Regions from separate parts of the Homo sapiens genome. Here region 1 is linked to region 2. Evidence: fine-mapped expression QTL. Tissue or cell type: whole blood. Region 2 holds a variant in brackets; the other region holds the start of a gene. All regions are shown on one strand. Distances are from middle to middle.

Region 1 (2,622 bases), 470 kb after region 2:
AGGCATAATATCTGGAAGGGTGACATGGGAAAGGGGACCTCAATCAGCAACCAGGGCTGAGAAGATTGGTTTAAATTGGGGGTCCCATACTAAGATGCCTACGAGGGCTGGGGAAATGACATACAATAATAGCTAAACACTTTTTATGTGCTCACTGTGTTCCAAATTCAATCATCACGACAATCTAATGCTCTGGGTACTATTATTACTCTTTCTAATTTATAGACGAGAAAACTGAGGCACAGAGAGGTTTAATGGCTTGGCCAGGGTCACCCAACAAGTAAGGAGTAGAGTTGGGTGCCTCAGTTTCCTCTTTTCCCTTCTAGGTTACGGGCAGCCTGAGGGGAGTGGCGCTGCCAGGTGTTTTGTGAGCCCCGCTGACGCCAGCTTTGTGGCCTTGACCGGGGCGGAACACGCGGTTCCCCCAGCAACCCCTTTGGGAAGCGGTGAGAGTGACACCAGAGAGGCAGGACTCCGTTAAAGGCGCCGCACCCCTTTTACAAGTGACTCAAAGGCGGCGCCCACTTTGAGAAGGGTGGAAACCCCGAAAAGCTAAGGACATCCCGCCCGGCCTCTGAAGGGCGAGGAAGAACTGGCGAAGGGCGGGGCGCTCTACACCGCGGGACTAGCGCGGGGCGGGGGGGCCCCACCCCAACAGGCCCTGCCCCTGGGCGCGCTGCCAGCCCGCCCTCCTGTGCCCAGGCCGCGCCACGCCCTGCCACAGGAGGCCCCCACTTCCCAGCACCCTGGGACCCCTTCGATGCGTCCACTGATGAGTTCACGCAGGCTGTCCCCACGTAGCCCTCCGTATGCGTTATAGGCTCCTTGCTTCACCCCGGGGACCACCAGATCTCAACAACCTTCGTCAAACCCCACCGACTCGCCCTGCGCCCCGGGTTTCGGGCCTCCACCGTGAACCCACCCACCTGCACCCCACTGCCGAGCGCCCCGGCCAAGTGCCTGCCTCACCCGGACCATCCAGTTCCGCATGGTCCAGCCACCCCATCCCGCTTTTGCCCACGCGCCTGCCCCAGAACGCTCACAATCTCAGCAAACAGGAGGATTCCCTTTCGAGTGCGCGAGAAGTTGGTGCAGGCGGCCCAGCAGCCAGGAGCCGAGAGGCGCTCAGAATCCGCCATGGCATGGGCTGGAGTCCCTGGTGCCTCGGAGGATCTGCTCACTTGCTCGTGGTTTCGAGGACGCTGTACACCCAGCTGTCTTGCCCGCCGTCTGGCCGGGAAGGGGGCCCCGGGGCGAAGGAGGGAGTGAATCACCGCGCAGAGCTGACGCGGGCGGGGCCGGAGCCGGGCCAGGTGGCTGCCGCCCCGGAAGCCCCCTCGCCCCGCCCCCCAAGGATACTCCCAGCCTGGCGCACAGCCCCCGGGGCGCCCCATCGCAGGGGTGCTTGGCAGCTCCAGGTACCAGGAGCAGTAATAGCGGGACCCTTCGCCTTTTTGGAATGCAAATGCACCCGAGACAGCTTCAGCTTAGAACCGCGGGAATCTGGCTTTGGGATGGAGTGACTCAGTTTCCTTAACTGAATAAAACGGCCGAGGCAGAGTTAAATCCGAAAGACTTGGGGCCCAGTATGTTGCCAGAATTCGGAATATTTTTGATTTCAGAAAGTTTTCCCATGCATATACTCTCAGCGGGGTTTGGAGCTGCCGCGTTACAAAAAAAAAAAAAAAGGGCCAGGCGCGGTGGCTCACGCCTGTAATCCCAACACTGGGAGGCCGAGGCGGGTGGATCACCTGAGGTCGGGAGTTCGAGACCAGCCTGACCAACATGGAGAAACACCGTCTCTACTAAAAATACAAAAATTAGCTGGGCACGGTGACGCATGCCTGTAATCCCAGCTACTCGGAAGGCTGAGGCAGGAGAATCGCTTGAACCCGGGAGGCAGAGGTTGCGGTGAGCCAAGATCATGCCATTGCACTCCAGTCTGGGCAACAAGAGCGAAACTACGTCTCAAAAACAACAACAACAACAAAAACGGTATTTCTTCAAGAAAAGGTATGAACGTTCACAATAACTGGGTAAGGATTGAAAAGTGTTCCTCGGCTGGGCGCAGTGGCTCATGCCAGTAATCCCAACACTCTGGGAGCCTCAGGTGGGAGGATCGCTTGAGCCCAAGAGTTGGAGATCAACCTCGGCAACACAGTGAGACCTCATCTCTACAAATAATTTTAAAAATTAGCCCAGGCGGCCGGACGCGGTGGCTCAAGCCTATAATCCCAGCAGTTTGGGAGGCCGAGGTGGGCAGATCACGAGGTCAGGAGTTCGAGACCAGCCTGTCCAACATGGTGAAACCCCGTCTCTACTAAAAATACACAAAAAATGAACCGGGTGTGGTGGCGCTCGCCTATAATCCCAGCTAGTCAGGAGGCTGAGGCAGGAGAATCGCTTGAACCTGGGAGGTGGAGGTTGTAGTGAGCCAAGATTGCGCCACTGCACTCCAGCCTGGGCGACAGAGCAAGACTCCGTCTCAAAAAAAAAAAAAAAAAAGAAAAAAGAAAAAAATTAGCCCAGGCATGGTGGCACGTGCCTGTAATCCCAACTACTCGGGAGGCTGAGGTGGGAGGATTGCTTGAGCCTGGGAGTTCAAGGCTGCAGTGAACCATG
Region 2 (2,759 bases):
GAGGATGTGAAGAAACTGGAACCCTTATACACCACTGGTAAGAATGTAAGATACAACCACTTTGGAAAATTATTTGGCAACTTCTTACAAAGTTAAACATATACATATAACCCAGCCATTCCACTCCTAGGTATTTACCCCAAAGAAATGATAGTATAAGTCCACACAAAGACTTGTACACAAATGTTCAGAGCAGCTTTATTTGTAATAGCCCACAGCTGGAAACAACCCAAATGTTCATCAATAGTTAAATAGATAAATTGTGTTATATCTACACAATAAAATACTACTCAGCAATGAAAATAAATGACCTATTGAAACACGCAACAATTTGGATGAATCTTACAGTAATATGAGTAAAAAAAGACAAAAAAGAATGCATACTATATGATTCCATTTATATAAATTATAGAAAATGCAAAATACCTATACTGACAGATAGCAGATCTCTGATTTTCTGAGGAGGTGGTGGCAGGGAGGACCCAGAAGGAGGGATGACAAAAGGGCATGAGGACACTTTCAGGGGTGATGAATATGTTCACTATATTGATTGTGGTGATGGTTTCATAATGTAAACATATGTCAAAACTTACCAAATTGTACAGTTTAAATGTGTGCCATGTATTGTATGTCAATAAATGTACCTCAATAAAGCTATAAAAAAATTGTAAAGGACACAATGTCCTTAGGGAAGTGTTACTCATGGAGGAGATGAAACTGAAACTTGATGGATGAGGAGCATTTGCACGGATACGGAGAATGGGTGTAGGGGATAAAGTGGTAAGAAGATATTGATAGGAAGAAACATAAAGACTTAGATGATGACAAATGCAAAAGGTGTTCAGGCCAGGCACCGTGGCTCACGCCAGTAATCCCAACATTTCGGGAGGCTGAGGTGGGTAGATCACCTGAGGTCAGGAGTTCAAGACCAGCCTGGCCAACATGGTGAAACCCCATCTCTACAAAAAAATACAAAAATTAGCCAGACGTGGTGACGTGTGCCTGTAATCCCAGCTACTCGGGAGGCTGAGGCACGAGAATTGCTTGAAGCAGGAGGTGGAGGTTGCAGTGAGCCGAGATTGGGCCACTGCACTCCAGCCTGGGTGACAGAGTGAGACTCCGTCTAGTTTAAAAAAAAAAAAGGGGGGGGTGTTTGGAGAATTAGACATAACATAAGTAAGGATTCACGAAGGGCTGTTCTATGGGCAAGACTATAGTATGACTTTTCAGAGGATAAAGGACGATAAAGGAGCTATACAAGAAATTTCTTCAGATTTCCAAAAAGA[T/C]TACTTTCTGACTAAGGAGAAGTAGGGGTCCATCTGAGGGTCTACCTTAGCCACCATTTTTGCCTTGGAAAATAGAAGCTTTCTGATAAAAACAGTAAGTTGCAATCACTAGAAAGGAGGCTTAGCTTCAATGTGATTGCTAAATTTTAAGAAAAGGAGACAAGGAAACCATGGGCAGCAATTGTATTCAACTCTTCAAAGCTCCTGGAAGGCAGTAACCAGTTCCTGACAAAACGAAGATCCAATTCCAAGGACAAATGTAAAAGGTGAGGGGGAAGAGGCTGGTTGTTCAGCACCAGAGGGGGGATGCTCTGCCTTAGAGATGATAAGAAAATGTATCCAAAAACTTGGAAATAGAGCAAGTGGAGATCAGTGTGTCTTCTTTATTTATTTATTTAGAGATGGAGTCTCGTGCTGTTGTCCAGGCTGGAGGGCAATTGTATGATCATAGCTCACTATAACCTCAAACTCCTGGGCTCAAGCAACAGCATGTCTTTTTAATGTCATATTGGAGCATTGTTTAACAGGCTCGCCCAGGAACTACTGAATTCTGTAAGTAGAATGTGCCTTTCTTTGATACACTGTCTACTATTGATCAAAAGCCTAGACTCTGTGAAGTTTTCTATTAACTTGCAGATGTTTGTCCAGTAGAGAAACAAATGATTTTTGTTCTGTCAGAAAGATAACTCCAAAGGATATGGTTTCATTGCCCTGTGACACATTAATCTGTTTTGTACCTAACCTAACAGTATTAATCTAATATTCTTTTTTATAAAGGATTATATAAATCCAGGTCCTCAAATGCTCTCGGAACCAGCATTAGCATACTGCTGTTTCCTCAACGATAAGTTGAATAAAATATTTGACACTTTGAGGTAAACATAGAGATGCACCACCCAGACCACCTTTCAAGGAAAGACTCACTGTGCAGCTGCAGGGAGTGCAGTGGGCAGGCAGCCTCCAGTTGTCAGCTCCATCAGGGTTCGCTCCAGCTGCAAAAAGCTACCTCTCGAAGGTCATGCCCTTTCCCCAAAACAGGGGACACTCTACTGCGCTGTCCCTGCTCCAGAGCTCCCCACTGGGTTGGCCAAGGCTTTGTGTGGCCTGCATCCCACTCAGCTCTCCCTCTGCCTGATCCTGTTTATTCACCCCTTCCTTTCATATCAATTGATCCCCAATCTTGTACCCAAAACTCCATCTCAGCAACTGACTCAGGAAAACCCACCCTGTGATAGATAATACTGGGAGGAGTCTAAGAAAGTAAGAGATGGCCAGGCACAGTGGCTCACGCCTGTAATCTCAGCAGCTTGAGAGGCCAAGGTGGGTAGATCACGAGGTCAGGAGATCGAGACCATCCTGGCTAACATGGTGAAACCTCGTTTTACTAAAAATACAAAAAATTAACCAGGTGTGGTGGCATGCGCCTATAGTCCCAGCTACTTGGGAGGCTGAGGCAGGAGAATCGCTTGAACC

What was found. PIP is the estimated chance that this variant, and not a neighbour inherited with it, causes the effect.
Region 1: PLP2 starts here. The variant in region 2 is fine-mapped to the expression of PLP2 in whole blood (TOPMed, PIP 0.97).

Annotation. Positions count from the first base shown.
Region 1 is chrX:49,170,518-49,173,139 of GRCh38, reverse strand. PLP2 (proteolipid protein 2) reads right to left here and starts at 1,242. Exons shown (of 5, transcript NM_002668.3): 1 at 1,044-1,242; 2 at 1-11. The coding sequence starts at 1,139. RefSeq lists silencers at 546-745, 1,266-1,365.
Region 2 is chrX:49,638,361-49,641,119 of GRCh38, reverse strand. No RefSeq gene overlaps it. Among named protein-coding and RNA genes, the nearest start is that of GAGE1, 41 kb to the right of the region's middle. The variant T/C (reference allele first, on the strand shown) is at 1,287.